Linked DNA regions of Homo sapiens: region 2 is linked to region 1. Evidence: fine-mapped expression QTL. A gene starts in region 1. The other region holds a variant in brackets. All regions are shown on one strand. Distances are between the middles of the regions.

Region 1 (8,344 bases):
CGCGACCTCATTTTCCACTCTAGGGCCCTCACATTAACCTGTAGACTTGCATTTCCTGACACCCCTTCCCTTGCTCTCCTTCACTCTAAATCACTTAGGACTGAAGGTGGTGCCAAAATATTTCTGAGAAAAAAAAATCAAGGAAATGAACGGCATACAGCATGTAATTTTCTGTGTAATTAATTCAGTTGCATAGGCTGGGATCATTGAGGATGACCCTAGGAGCTGGAAAAATTGACAGAGTAAAGATAATATGACATTTCTATTAAAAGAGCTAAAGGTCTGAACACTCTAATAAAGGGTTAATCTGGAAAACTTTCAAAGTCAATTGTTTACCTTACCTATCCTTTTACAAAGTCTTACTTGATCCTAACTGATCAAATAACCACATGTGATTTTATCTAAAGCATCCAAAAAATTAGAGGGGAAGAAGTGAAAGGGGTGTTTTGCCTTAGAGTCCACTACCTAGGTTTACAGTACATTTACCCAGTTATCAAAGTGCCTTTGTTGCAAAACATATAAAAAATGGGAAAGTATTTAGGACAGTGAGAATTATGTTATCAGATCTGAAGGTAGCACTTGTTATTATAGTGCTGGTTGAGCAAGGTCTTGAAAAATTTTCTAATGTTTATCTTACATTAACTCTTACAGTAGATTCCAACAGGTGACTTTTAAACATTCTTCAAAGAACAGTAGCTGAAATGTAGAACGAGTCTAAAACTGAGAAAATGGATGCTGTCACCCAAGCAGTTTTATAAGCTCTCAGCCAACTTTTGTAAAGAGTTGCTATTATTAAGTAGTTTGCATAGCTTTAATTAAATTTCCCTTTGGTTTACAAACTTGATTTGTAAGTCAAAATTCCCCTCAACTTTAAAAATTCAAATTTCACTATTCATGCTTACTTGTAACACTGGTTTTTATGGTATGTGATTTGAGGATAATATGTGGCTATCTAAAGACTTGTGTTTATATTTTGCAAGGTATCTTTCTTTGTATATGCAGGAATTCTCTTGCTATTGTGAAATGTGTCCTCTCCTCTTTGTTATTTATGAAGGAGTGCTGGAAAAATCTGGGGTGTCTCTATTCCTCTTAAGCACAGATTTTTACCATTATTTCATACATGACACTGAAATGCTCTGCTGGAAGCATTATCAACACACACCAAAGGATATTTTAACACAGAAAATCTTTTTAAAGCATGTTTCAATCACCATTAATTGGCTTCTCAGAAACCTCCTACTGTATCTTTCTGGATTCCTCCACCAAAGCTATTTTTCATATTTTGATAACAAAGATTAATTTGTTACAGATATAGACATAGAGAACTTGACATTTTTGTCTCAATCCTTTTGATAAATGTTTATTATGAAATTGCTCCTCCTTCATTTAATTTTCTACTACAGGGCTTTCCCCGGGTTTGGAAAGCATGCATTAAACAATAGATACAGCAACTGTTCTTTCCACTGAATGAATGGAACCGTAAAAGCTACTCTACAGGCCAACTGAATAAGCTAATTTTGCCATTGCCTGTGTATGTTAACCAGATGAGGGATATTTCTGTGGCATTTTTTAAGGAAGCTATATCTTAAATGAATTAATGAGCTTGAAATACTTACAATGGAATGCCAAACTGTGTATTTTTTAGTATGAAGTGACTTAAACTTGGACAGTGTTTGAAGTTAACTGATTCAAGCAGTATTACCAGTAATTGTGGTGGTCTAACATTATTTAACAAGTGTAAAAACAAGAAAAGGGAGGAGCAAAACTCTACCAGAATTTATCCTTAAGATGTGACTATCAAGATCACTACTATTGGTGAGGCTGGAAAGCTGCCATTTTATTAGTGTTAACTTTACTTTATCTATTAAAAGAAATATTTTCAGAAAAAATAAATAAACCCTGAGGGCAAATAATAGTTGAATAGGAATATGAAGTGTGGTGGCTTACATCTGAAATTCCAGCACTTTGGAAGGCCAAGGCGGGTGGATCACTTGAGGCTAGGAGTTCGAGACCAGCCTGCGCAAAATGGGGAACCCTCATCTCTACAAAAAATACAAAAATTACCCAGGAGTGGTGGCGCATGCCTGTAGTCCCAGCTACTTGGGGGGCTGAGGTGGGAGGATCACTTGAGCCCGGGAGGTTGAGGCTGCAATGAGCTGGGATCACATCATTACACTCCAGCCTGGGTGACAGAGCAAGACCCTGGGGGAGAGGGGAGAGGTAAGAGGAGAGAGGAGGAGAGGAGGAGAGGAGGAGAAGAAAAGAAACCCCGAAGTATTGATGGTAGTTCATTGCTGGTATGGGGCTGTTGGGTGAATACATCCAAATGCTTTCATACACACTGGTCTTAATAGGGGAATCGGCTCGTTCTGCATAACATCCGCAATAATATTAGCCCCCAAATAGCTGTTACTCAGATTCAACAGTTATCAAGATTTTCCTACATTGTCCTCATCTGTCTAATTTTCTTCCTTAACTATTAAAGCAATTCTCAAAAGTCATGTCATTCATTTAACTCTTTCATTTATTGGTATGCATCTCTTAAGTCTTGACATTGCCATAAGCCATTATCACATATTACAAACTGTGAAGAAACATTTCCTGGTATATCTAATTTGGAACACTGCCTAAATGTAGCGAATCTATTTTCTGTCAGAAATACCTCAGGGAAAGGGTACTCGTGAATGGAGAGGCATACATCTCCTCTGAAGGCAATTGTGTTTGCGCAGTTTTCTTCTCATGGTCAAATTAACTGAAGGAAAAAGAGAGAAGTATTAGGAGCATTTTTCAGAGGCTTAATTGTTGTTTAATCTAGACAATGCAAACATATTTTGGAGCCAAACTAGATTGTGGTTATTTGCCATTTGTTCAAATGTGATTATAAAATTAAAAACCAATGTGATGCATATACACAAGGGGTGTTCCTAACAGTTAATGTTAATAGCAAGATCTTCTTTTACTCCTATTTTTTTAACTCCATCGTTGAGCAACATAGCAACATCTTAATAGTAATATCCTCCTCCTTTTGAATGATTTTTTCCTAAATGCTCCTAGACCTTTTATTTTATGTAGTAAATTAATCACAAATATTTTGTAAGAACATTGTCAAAGCTACTGTGTATTTCTGAAAAGTATAAATGGTTTGAATAGTGACTGCTGTAAACAATGAGAAGGGATCAAGCTGCTTTCTCAGAGTTGCTGAATTGGAACTTTTTTCTTACTTATGTAAAAGCACAGACCAGGGGACATCATTCGAAATAAACTCACAGTGATCAAACTTCTAATTCACTAAAAAGCAAAGTCTGAATTTTTAACAAGTGATGCATCGTTTTCTGTTCTAACTGAAGAAGTATATTATCAAGTGAATAATTTAACATATTTGGATGTAAATATTACCACCTTTTTATTTAAAGTTGGGTTTGTGGTTCAGAAAACTTTAACTTTCTAATTTCTTTCTTTCTTTCTTTCTTTCTTTTTTCTGTTTCTTTCTTTCTTTCTTTCTCTCTTCTTTTCTCTCTTTTCTTTCTTTTTTTTTTCAAACTTACTGGTTCTTTGAAATCTTAGCTGTTTGGTTTTGAAGTAAAAGTACATTAGAATACTTTTGTGTACTAAATTTCTGTTGGTTAAGTACAATATACTTGATATCATCTTTGAAAACATGTCAAGTAAATTAATATTATGTATCTTTATCATACATATTTTTGATGCTTTTTAGCTGTATAAGCATAATAATAAAAACTGCACTTATTTGTTTTAAGTGACATGCCTAGTTACATAATTAGAAATGACAGCTATTGACCTGTTTTAAGATTTAATCTGCATTTTGTTGCATTATGCTTTTTGTATGTTAATTCAGCCCCTACTCTGGGCAGCAACATACTTTTTAAATAAACTGCTTTGGAGTTTGCATTTTACCTAAAAATCTATACATTTATTTACCTTTATAATGAATAGACGAACACTTCTGTTTCATTTTACTTGTAAAGACAACATAATCTGCAATAGCTTAGAGATCTATTTTCTTGGCATTTAGGAAAAATAGTGGTAAAATACTTATCATTTCAAAGTCCAGATGTTTTTAAAATATTGAAATAATAGACCCAACAGGATAGATAGCATACTTTCAAAATCCTACACATTTATCCCCAATACTACTAACTGCAAGCACACCTAAGTGGTTTTCAGATAAACACAATCATGCTCAGAGACCCAGGGATGCAAACAGGCAAAACAAGTTACTTGTACAAATGTATCAAAGGCCTACCTGGTCTCTGTCCGCTGATAAGGAGAAGACTCATAATAAAAATAAAAAATGCAAAAAGGAATTGCTGAAATCTCATTTTCCTACCGCACAAAAGTAGAGCAATGACTCTCAATGTAAACCAAACGATCTGTAAATAGTCTGTGCAATATCTGTGTGGCTGTCTTCACATTCTAGTGACAAACCTCAGAGAACTGCCAGCTGTGTTTTGCAGGAAGGTTAATGATCACATTAGACAAAGTTGCCGGTGCTCTGTGCTGTGGTCAGAGCCTCCCTCAGCCTCAAACCCCTCCTCCACTCCTCTTCTCCTTTCTCCTCGGCCACTCCCCTTTATTTCCATAAGCAAATATTGGTGAAATAAACCATTCAAGCATGCTATAACTTTAGTGGAAGTGTACTCCAAAAGCTCCAAGAAGAGAATGACTTAAATTCAATCTGGATATGAAGAAATACGTAAAACAAGACGTGACACTGCCTCCTCCCCTTACCATTTGCATCTGTTTAAACTTTGCCCATATTGGTCCCACATGCAGAAACCAGTGGAAATGACAGGAAGTCTCTCTTTTGTCTTTTTCAGAAGGAATTCTGAAGCTCTAACATAAGAGTCCCAAATGCTTTGTGGCAGAACATGTGCTGAAATGCTTTATCTTTACCAAACTTACTGCAAAGTAGTGCCTGTTTACACGAACTCTCCAAATTGCCTAATTCACTGGGTTTGTAACAGTAAAGATTTTTGGAATTTAGAATGTTTTGAAATAAATCTGCAAAACATATACATTTATATTAATATTTTGTAAAGTGCAGTTTTAAAAGTAACAGATTATTTTCATCTGCAAATGTCCAGGATTTTAAAAAAGGAAGTTCAGGCAAGCCACAAACTCATGAAATCTGTGTTCGGTTAAAAATTTATATGTGGTGGAATACCAGGCTAACATACCACAGTCACAGAAATTGGAGATGGAGAAAACAAGTCTTAGTTCATCTCCCAGTGAATTCAGAAAACACAAAAACAGTCTAGCCTTGTCTTTTACACACATGCACCAAGATCTCTTTTTGTTTCAAGTGCTCCCTTATATATCAGATACAGCTGTTATAAATGGAAATGACTATACTTATTATGTAAGTATAATAAATTCCATTTATAACATCCATATCGAACATATTTTAGGTAAAATGCAAAATGCCAAAAGAATAGTATAGGTATGCCTTGAAACACAAGTACAGCCAAAGTACTAGCTCTAAAGCATGTGTAATTTGTTTTGAACCATTAGGAATTTTGTTGTATTTGGCTTCTTTAGACTCAGGTAGTTGGTACATAACCTTGGGGCTTCCTGAGGTTTGAATTTAATGCACAATTTGTCTTGATTTTATAAGTCAATCTGTAAATTTCCCTGCCTGTCTAGTTAGGCATGAAGTTTATAATAGGCGATGGCATACAAAAATTCTTAAATTCACTTTATTGAAGTCTTGAGAATATATTGACCTGTTTGGGGACTGCAAGCATAGTGTTAAAGGGTCCTACTTTACCATGCTGTCCATTGCTTCATAAAATCAATGGAATACAATAGAGTTTGAACTCATGATATACAAGTGACTTAAGAATGGCAAAGAGTTTATTCAGATTTTTAAATCCCTCCCCATTTCCCGCCCCAGTCTTCTTAGTACAGCATTCAGGAAAACAGCATGCTAACAAAGTTGAATGTTAAATCAATAAGAGATCAATATAGATTTTGGCACTATATTTTCAGGCCAAGTTTTAAGTCTATTCAAAGGTTTAGTAGTGAGTCTTTATAGATAAGATAGAGACCTACCACAGAGAGCAAATATTGACTAAAATTTTTATATTTCATTACCAGGTGATCAACAATGAATTCCTAGAATATCACTAATATGCACCAGTGCTGTGGAAGATACATATCTCCACTGATCAGGACAGAGCAAACTGTTATATTTAAGTCATCTAACCACATAGAACATTATTTTTCTCATTAAAAGAAAAAAGATGTGATAAAATACCTGGTTTTCTACCTGAAAGAGTGATTATGTATTAAACTCATGAAAATTTACACATGATTTATTTACATGTTTTAAAATTAGTCTTTCAAAAAGACAAACAAAAAGATGTTGTTTAAATAGTTGACTTTTGGAGTATAGTAATAAAGTGATTATACAGTCAATGAGCAACTGAAATGTTAGACATGGAGGTACAATGAAAAGTGATCCAGCATTTCTGTGGAATGTGAGTCAACAATAGCAATAAATCATTCATCTTAGTACTGAATAACTAGGTATGGAGAAATATTGGTAGGAAAGTGTCAGAACAATGCAACTGGCTCTGCAAACAGCACTTTCAGCCTGCAAGTATAAGAGAACAAGGCATCTTCTTTGTTTACAGGAACACAAACCTAGACTTCTATCCTACAGACAGCCTTTGTGAGGGAGGCAAGGGCTGTGCCCCGGGCCAAATCCTATGTTAAGTGTGTTGCATATGTTACTTCGCATAATCCTCCCCAAAACACTCTGAAGTATCATGACTCCCTGTTTACCAGATGAGAAAACTGACAGCTAAAGAGGTGTAGCCTCCAAGGGCTAGATGACCGGAAGAGGAATAGATGGGATCCAAATTCCATAATCTCAGCCCTCAAACATTTCGCTATCCTCCCTTTTAAGGCCCCAATCCCAGTTCTTAAAAAAGAAAAAAAAAAAAAAAAAAAAAGCCTATTGAAGCTATTATAAAACAAAAGATAAGTTAGCAATATATTTCTTGTACGAGGTTGAATATTGTGCCCCATAAAATTTATGTCCATCTGGAACCCAGAATGTGGCCTTATTTTGAAATAGGGTCATTGCAAATGTAATCAGTTAAGATTGAGGTCATACTGGAGTAGGGTGGGTCCTAAATCCAATATGGCGGCTGTCCTTATAGCAAAAAGAAGAGACAGAGACACACAGGGACAGGTGGGGAGGAGCTCTGTGATGATAGAGGCAAAGATGAGAGTTATGCTACCGTGAACCAAGGAACCAATGCCAAAGATAGCCAGCAACCACCAGAAGTTAGGGGAGAGACATGGAACAAAATCATTCTCTGAGTTTCCAAAAATCAACACTACTGACACTTTGATTTTGGACTTCTAGCCTCCTGAATTTGAAAGAACAAATTTATGTTATTTTAAGCCACCCAGTCTGTGGCACTTTGTTATAACAGCCCTAGGAAATCAATACATTTCTGTACCTACATATATTCTATAAGGATATAAATATTCTCTGTATAATCCAATAAATATATACTTATTTTATAGTAGTATACTATATATGCCAGGTATTTAACAAATGTTATTTTGTTTACACATCATAATCTTATGATGTAAGCTCTATCTTCATTTTACAGAAAAGGCAACAAACTCAGAGGATTAAGTGATTTGCCCCAGATAAAATAGCTCATAGCAAAGTTAATATGAGGCCTGTGTCTCTCAGTCCTGGGCCTCTTATCTCTTTGATTTGGATCTTGTGCCCTAACTTTTCCTAGGATATCCTTCCCAATTGATTTCATCGTTGCCACTTGCATCTTCAGTCTTTCCTTCTTTTTTATTTTTTATTTTTTTGAGACAGAGTCTCACCCTGTCGCCCAGGCTGGAGTGCAGTGGCGCAATCTCGGCTCACTGCAAGCTCCGCCTCCCGGGTTCACGCCATTCTCCTGCCTCAGCCTCCTGAGTAGCTGGGACTACTCGCCACCGCGCCAGGCTAATTTTTTGTATTTTTGTAGAAACGGGGTTTCACCATGTTAACCAGGATGGTCTCGATCTCCTGACCTCGTGATCCACTCGCCTTGGCCTCCCAAAGTGCTGGGATTATAGGCGTGAGCCACCGCACCTGGCTTCAGTCTTTCCTTCTTTACTGCATCCCTCTCTCCCTATAAAAGTACTCTTTCCAACCTAAAATTTCTCTCCCTTTGCCCATTATCATTCAGCTAGATGTCTGAAATAGAGTCCAAGCATTAAACTAACCTCCCTTCCTTCCTTCCTTCCTTCCTTCCTTCCTTCCTTCCTTCCTTCCTTCCTTCCTTCCTTCTTCCTTCCTTTCTCC
Region 2 (8,344 bases), 78 kb before region 1:
TTCCCACATCTCACAGCACAAGGAAAATGACTGGCACATCTTCCAAGTCCCCTTTTTCAGGGAACTACCTGGTGATACGCTCACCAAAAGAAGGGAAGAAAACTAAGAAGGAAAACAAGGGACTCAGACAACAATAGACTTAAAACCTCTGGACATAAGACAGAAGATAAAAGATAATTCTTAGGGTAAGGGAAACATGAAAGGCCTCAGAGGACAGCTGTGCATCATATCACCAAATTTCAGTTCATGCTAAGATGACAGAGGGCTTCAGGAGATTGAGCACTATAAAGAAAATGAATATAATCAACAAATTACATGTCGAGTTTAGAAAGGAACTTTAGAGATGAGCAGATATGGGGCTGAAAGAGATAAACAGAAAATGCAGCAAGTAAGAAATCAGGCAATTTTAATCACAATAAAACAAAATTTGTGTATCAAAGAAATTATAATTATAGCACCTAAGTGGCTCAGCTGTGAACAATTATATAGTCATATGAACGTATTAATCCAATTATATTACCATATTTGGATATTTGTGGGGAAAGATAGAGTATGTGCCTGGGTGGTGCGAGAGACCTAAATTCTCAGTTTATCTAATAGAATGTTAATTTAAAATGTCTAACATTAGACATATTACAGTTATGAAGAAATAGCAAGGTCACTGGAATAAATCATGCCTCTGTTTAACAGGAATTTGGTGTAGGATGGCATGACCCAGGAGGTTTTTGTTTTTATATAAGCCTGTTTTGTTGCTGGAATGAACTAATAGCTCTCTACATAATTTTGATAAAATTCATAATGTGGGAAGCATTGAATTATTGACTGTGTAATACCATCTTTCATCTTAGAATATCAAAAGTACTTTACAATTTATTCCCATTACATCTCTGAAGAGTAGGCATTTCTAATACTGTTTTATTGATAGTTGCTAAAATAATGAAAGAAAAAAACTTTCTTCTGCTTGTAAGTGGCAGACAATTCAGAATTGAAGAGCTCCTCTCCTAAATAATACAAAATAGCTTTCAAATAATTCATCCTTCATAATCTATTACTGTACAGGTTATAAGAGGTTAGAAATCATACCCAGTGTGAAACACAGCCTAAGTAGTTTCATAAAAATATCACTTGAAGAAAAGATTTCAGACCTGGCATTCAAGTCATAAGATTAAACCTCATCCCCTTCATTGTCCAGAACAAATCCTAACATTACTGGGTCTTACTTTTAATAGAACGATTGCCACTCTATGTAGTGTAATTACTTTGGCAAAGTTATTACATTTCTATAGCTGAAAACTAAAGCATGAATCCTATTGTGATGGCGTCTTTTTCCATCTCCTGGGAAGACAATTCTAACAAACAACTCTATTATATCTATCCAGTTTGATTTTGTCCTCTTTCTCTTCCTCCTGGTAATAACAGCCTTAATCTTTTTTGGATCATGAGTTTTTGTGGTGTCTTTCCAAATCGCACTGTATTCTATCTTTAGAGATACAAGATTATGACTTGCTGTTTCAGAATCTAGAGTCAGATCTATGTAAAATGAATTAAGAATGTTTTGTCGACCATAATGTTGTGGCAGAAGTCTAGAATCATCATCCCTTGTTAAAATGGAAAAGCTCATAAAGTTTTTGTCTTAATACCTGTTATTGATACATACCCTTATATCAGTTACTAATTATTTGAGTGAATAGTTTACTCTGCTATCTCACTTATTAGAGCTTTAAATAAGAAAATATGGTCTGAAAGTTTTGTTTTCATCTAGTGTGCGTATCATATCCTATTCTTTATATTTTCAGGTTTTCAGAACTGCATCTTATTCATTTTCCGAATAAAGCACAAAGTGCTCAAAATCAGAGTTTAATCTCTTCCTCTAATATTCGACTATCTTCGGTAGCATTCATGTATTTTTAGTTAACATAACGATTGGTTTAGTTTTGGCTTATTTAAAGCATTTTACACTTGCTGTTTCAGATGTCAGATGTCCCCTGTGAGCTTCTTCCTTGAGGCAGCCTGCTCTATAGGACAGGTGAGCCCAGCGGGAGCCAGCCCACTGCAGACCCAAACCCTCTAGTCCTTGTCACAAAAAGAGGCTGGGACCTGATGGTGGTTCTCTTCCTGACTTTTCCTGGTGGTCCTTCTGACTTGGAGTGGCCTGGCAATTTCGGTGGCGTGACAGCCGGAATGCTGCCACTAAAATTCCTCTCTGGGCACCATGAGCGGCTGACAGGGCACGCGGAGAAAACGATTCGCTTCTCCCAGGATTGGTGGAGCGACCGCTGTTGGACGAATGTGGTCGTCCCTGGATGTCTGAGCAAAGAGACACTGCCATGGCGGCCGCCGGTCAGCGTATAAGGTCTGTTAGGGAGACCCGAAGCCCTGCACCAGGAACGCAGTTTGGCTCGCCCAGCCCACCCTGCAGGGCTGGCTCTCCAGGCGCTGGGTCCGGGGAGAAGAGGACAGCTGCCCCGCCGCACCGCGCATCCTTCCATCCACTGTGGTACATGGCGCTGCCCCGGTCTCCAACGTCGCGCCACACCTTCACGGTCTCACCCGGAAGTCGAAGCCCAGAGACGGTGCCGGCCGCACCCAATCACTGCTCTGCCGCTCCGACTTCCGCTACGGACTCGCCCAGCCTCCTGGGAGAAACGCTGCAGTGCTTGGGGTGCTGAAGCCCCTTGAGAGCCTTGTGTTCTGTGAGAAAGTTGCATTCTGAAGGAACCTCAGCTGTTTGCTTTGCTCTTCTGCCACCCAACCCTACCTGTGCCAGACTGAGGGCTCTCCCTGCCCCGCCTTAACAGAAGAGAATTCCAGTTGCTGTTTTAATTTATTGAATCTTATTTATAACTGGTTGGAGAAAAATATGGTTATAATTCCCACTGAACAGCTTATTAAAAGTTACAGTAACACTATGATAATTGAGATATTGTCTTTTAGGGAATAAATAATGAAATTATAAGATGAAATATACAGATGAAATTATAAGATGTCTGGGAATTTACTCCATTGGCAGGAGAAGTTGCTGGGGTTATAAAGATTGTTAATTCAAATGATAGAAATTGGTTTCTTTTTATGTGTACGTTCTTCATAATGTTCTCTCTACTATTATGGATGTATGAAATACTCCACAATTTAAAAGCTTCCTTTTATACCCGGCATGGAAGCTCATGCCTGTAATCCCAGCACTTTGGTAGGCTGAGGTGGGCGGATCACATGAGCTCTGGAGTTTGAGACCAGCCAGGCCAACATGGTGAAACCCTGTCTGTACAAAAAATACAAAAATTAGCCGGACATGTTGGCCCGCCCCTGTGGTCCCAGCTACTCCGGAGGCTGAGGTGGGAGAATCGCTTGAACCTGGGGAGTTGAGGTTGCAGTGAGCCAGGATGGCGCCACTGCACCTCAGTCTGGACGACAGAACGAGAGCTTGTCTCAAAAAAATAAATAAACGAAAGATTTATTTCAAAAGGCTAATCATGTTTCAGCGTTATCAATGCCTCGTTCCAGAAAAGCTCATTTCTCTTACTCTTTTCTTTGAGCCGCCTCCCCGTTTTCAGTCCGCCTCAGGGCTCTCAGATTCTGTCTCCTTTGTCTTCCTCCTCACAGTTGTCCCTAATCTTAATCGATTTTCCATCCTCTACCAATTTCCTGTCTACACCCTCTTTAATCTCATAAAACTGCCAAATTAGTTTAAATCGGGATTGAGGAAAGAGCGAGACTAGGCATTGTGCTTCCATCTGGGTGTGTGTGTCTTGTGTGTGGATCCCAGGCCTGGTCTCAGATTACCTGAGTCATCTGGGGCTGGTCCCTGATATCCTCTCTTCATCCTTTTGTGGTCACATGAAGACAAGGAAAATCAACCTCAATTTCCCTTTAAGTTTTCTGTAAATATAAACACCAATAAAGACATATCTTCTGGAAAACTTGTTTTTTTTTTTTTTTTTTTTTT[G/TG]AGACTGAATCTCTCTTAGTCACCCAGGCTGGACTGCAGTGGCAAGTTCGTAGCTCACTGTAGCCTCAAACTCTTGACCTCAAGCAATCTTCCTGCCTGGGCCTCCCACACTACTCGGGTTGCAGTCTTGAGCCATTGAGCTCAGCCTGGAAAAAATTTTTTAAAACATAGGATTTGGTGTGGCACAGAACTCAATATATTCCAAGAATGGTTTGTGTTTCTGATTCTTCTGTTGACTGTTTAATGGTAGATATGCTGATTATGCAGAACAGTTCAGACATAATTAGATGTAATTAGGGCAAACCAGCATGAGGCCCCTTATGAGAAGTCCAAATCTGTGATTGTCATACAACATACAAAAGAACTGTCTCATATACGATGTCAGAGTAAAGAGTGAACCAAATAGGTTATGTGTAGGACATGTGTATACTACTATAATACCATAATAATTTTTTTTTTTTTTTTTTTTGAGATGGAGTCTCCTTCTGTCACCAGGCTGGAGTGCAGTTGCACGATCTCGGCTCACTTCAACCTCCGCCTCCCGGGATCAAGCGATTCTTCTGCCTCTGGCTCCTGAGTAGCTGGGACTACAGGTGCCCTCCACCATGCCCAGCTAACTTCTGTATTTCTAGTAGAGACAGGGTTTCATCATGTTGGCCAGATGGTCTCGATCTCTTGACCTTGTGATCTGCCTGCCTTGGCCTCCCAAAGTGCTGGGATTACAGGCATGAGCCACTGTGCTGGGCCAATAAAATTTTAAGTAAATATAAAACAGCATATTTATATTTTATTTTTTGTAGAGATGGTTGCCCAGGCTGGTCTGGAACTCCTGACCTCAAGCGATCTTCCTGCCTTGACCTCCCAAAGTGCTGGGATTATAGCCATGCTGCCAACCATGTGTAGGGTATGTATATGTTCCTATACCATAATAAAATTTTAATTACATTTGTAAGGTATGTAATTATATGTATTTCTGTATAATATGTACATATAAATATGCTAATTAATACAAGAACATATTGAATTATAATCAATATATATAATTTTAGATGTATATTGGAATGTTTATCTTTCTAATAATACAAAACTGATGGTTAAAAAATAAAATGCACAAACTCCCCAAGGTTCCTTCCTATGTGGCTACTTTCCCCAGCTTAGGTCCAGCCAAAGGCTGCACGCCCTTTACTGAGTGTAGCTCACCTGTGCCTCCTGGTGCAATCCTCACTCAGATATTCTGCTCCCAGTAGAGGGTTAGTGTAGGGTGCGGAGCCTACCTGTATTCACTTGTCAGCAGTTCACTGGGGATTGTCAGCTTTTTCCATCCTTGCAGAGCTGTTTCTTCGTCGATCCAGGTCAGAAGACGCAACACAGTCCCTACTTCTTGTTCACCAAAATGGTGACCTCAGAACGAATTCAGTCTTAAACCCTGTAGGGAGTTTTTTTTTCCTTATGCAGTCAGCATGGGGGAAGTGACAGGTCCCAGAGGGCAGTTCTCTCTTGTTCTCTGATTGCTCCTGCAGGGTCCTGGGTTGGTGAAGGGGACAGGGGTAGGGACCTGCAGAATGGTTGTGATGGGGTGGGAGCTGCGGAAGTAACACATCATGCACTGAGTGGAGCATAAGGGCAAGTGCTGGGTTTTTTTGTTTCACTTTTTTTTGGACACAGGATGTTGCTCTGTCACCCTGTTGTGCAGTGATGCAGTCATGGTTCACTGTAACCTGGAACTCCTGGGCTCAAGCAATCCTCCAGCCTCAACCTTCCAAATAGCTAGGACTGCAGGCACACATCACCATGCCCAGCTAATTTTTAAAAATTATTCTTTTTGAAGAAACGGTGTCTCACTATGTAGGCCAGGCTAGTTTGGAACTCCTGGCCTTATCCTCCTTTCTTGACCTCCCAAAGTGCTGGCATTACAGCCATGGCTCCCAGCCAGTCTTTTGTTATTCATAATGAGCCCCTTTGGATCAACTGGATTTATGCTAATGAGGTGGGTTGGGTTGGGGCCCCAGGGTAGCCTCAGGATAGGGCTACTCACAGAAGACCAAGTGATTAGAACTTTCAGTAGGATGGTGGGGGGACCTGGAAAATAAACTTTATACAAATTCTTGAAGAAAGTAATATGAGGAGCTTTGAGATTTGTGAACACCTTGAGGTGCGGGGAGGGTGGACCACCCAGAGAGGGAATGAAACTATATTTAAATATTAAATGTGATACCTATACTGCACTTACACTTTTAAAATCGTTCTTTTAGTGATTTATTTTAAGATATAGATAAAATGATATGATGTATGAATACTGCATTAAAATGATTTGGGGAAGGTAGAGCATGATCTTGATAAAATAAAATTGACCATAATAATTATTGAAATTGTGTAATGGATCTATGGGGGTTGGGGTGATCTATTGTACAATTATGTCTCTCTTTCTGCATGTTGGGACTTTTCCATAATATCCCAATAATTAAACTGAGATCATACAGCATCCTAATTATTGTTGTGTCAACCCCACATGGGAAAAATTGAACACCCATCAAATTTAGTCCAGATATAAAGACTGATTATGCCACACACCCACACACACACTAGAAGGATAGGAACAGGTTTGTTTCTCACATGCTGGGGTGTTGAAGGAGAGCAGCACAGGCCTGTAGGTGGTCTGTAAATGGACTGTGAGAGCAGAGAAAGAAGACGGGCTTGGTGTTTTTCTTCAGGTTAAGGTGTGGGCAGGGTGAGGGATCACTCATTCACAATGAAAGTTGCCTGGTTTGAATCTCTTTCCTGCCCTGAAGGAGGGAGCACCTGGGCTTTCTTGGCAGGTTGCCCAAATGTGCGGCCAAAGAAAAAAATGGAGGAGTGACGATTAAAAGTTATCAAGGGTGAAAAACTGTAAAAATGGATTTGAACTATTTTGTAGGATTCCCCCACACCCTGATGTTTAACTGTTGATTAGATGCACCATGTTTCATTTCATTGAATTTGAACTTGTTTGAGTAAGCCTTTATGGTGCTTAATGAAGCTGACAGCTTAATCTAGTAAGGGAAGTTACAATTCCATTGAATGCCTTCTTCAGGACCCCAGCATTGCATATTCTGGGAAGTGAAATGAGTCTTTGGTCCCTCTCAGTAATGTCTGGAACTCCAAAGGAGTTCCAGATCCTGTTGAGGTTTCGTATTGTGGCCTTAGTGTATATAGAGAAATGTGTGACCTTGAGTTAGATTTTGGATATTTGTGAGGCAAGAATTCTTTACTCTGAAGCAGGTAACTCCAAGGCTATGGCTCCATAGTTAGTAAAACTGCATATTGGGCTGATCATTGGTCAGGGGCTCCAATTCTGAGAAGATGGCCTGAAGTTCCATCCATTGACTGACCTTGGAGTCCTTTTGCTTGTTAAGAATGTCCTGATTAATAAATGAAAAGTAGTAAATCCCTACTGAGCTCATCATGCATGGCAATGGTTATGCCATCCTTACAGTGTATAAACCCCCACTGCTGTTTATCATTTGATCCCGGAGGTGTGAGGGGGAGGTCTCTCAGGTAGCCAAAGGACCTAAGAGAGGAGCCATCTCCTAAACCCAGTGGCATGTGGCAGGGACTAAGGACAAGGTAGGCAGGCTACCCCTTCCTGTGGATGAAATATGGCAGAGGGCCTGCGTCTGGCTCTATGATGTAACAAGGATTCCTCCTATACCTGTGCTGAACTAGCAGGGTGCTGCTTCTAGAATCCAAGGCATGCTGAGCAACTGAGTATGAAGAGTTAGAGGCTCAGTGCCTGTGAGAGCTTAATGTACTACAATTTAGAGTCTGTAGGCCTTTCGTGGAGGGGGCCCCATTAAAGATGGGTGGATTTGGAAGTAACAGCATAAGTGACCTTAAGCAAAATTTATAAATGATGAGTATGTTTCCTCCAGAATCCAAAAAGTGTTAAAGATACTGGGCTTGTTTTCACATTGTGGGCATTGAAAGGTTTTATAGCTGTTTCTCCACAGTGTCAGAGATGGAGTTGCTTTCAGTTTACCAAATAATTTTCAGGCAATTAATCGAATAAGAGGCTTGCACTGTATGGGGGAAATGACCCATTCCCTTTGTGTAAACTCTTTTGTGAGTATTTTCATGGCTTGAATGAGTGTTTCAAATGGATCACCATGGAGGAGAATGTCATCCATGTAAATCATACCTGCTGTTCTGGAAGAAGTTGAATGAAGTTGGAATCTTCCCTACAAGGTCTGTGTGCAAAGGCAAGACTGCTGAGGTGCCCACGATTAGTGGGTAGAGATGCATAAAATTCCTTTGAGGTAAAGGGAAAGCATGGCCAGGAAGCTGTAGAAATAGGCCTGAAAAAAACTAGCCAAATCTTTAGTAGCCAGATATTTACCACTTGCTGATTGGATGGAGTAAATCATG

Which allele goes with the higher level. Alleles are on the strand shown, and positions count from the first base shown. SD is a standard deviation of normalised expression in the study named.
For the expression in lymphoblastoid cells of the gene that starts at base 4,494 in region 1, TG is the high allele of the variant in region 2 and G is the other (moderate effect, 0.74 SD a copy in GEUVADIS).

What was found.
Region 2: its variant is fine-mapped to the expression of APELA in lymphoblastoid cells (GEUVADIS, PIP 0.95).

Annotation. Positions count from the first base shown.
Region 1 is chr4:164,873,328-164,881,671 of GRCh38, reverse strand. APELA (apelin receptor early endogenous ligand) reads right to left here and starts at 4,494. Exons shown (of 3, transcript NM_001297550.2): 1 at 4,265-4,494; 2 at 2,663-2,752. The coding sequence starts at 4,340. The coding sequence ends at 2,664. RefSeq lists an enhancer at 8,162-8,344.
Region 2 is chr4:164,951,168-164,959,511 of GRCh38, reverse strand. FAM218A (family with sequence similarity 218 member A) reads right to left here and starts at 2,564. Exons shown (of 1, transcript NR_160935.1): 1 at 381-2,564. It also overlaps a transcript of TRIM61 not described here. RefSeq lists enhancers at 2,305-2,464, 2,765-2,814. The variant G/TG (reference allele first, on the strand shown) is at 3,944.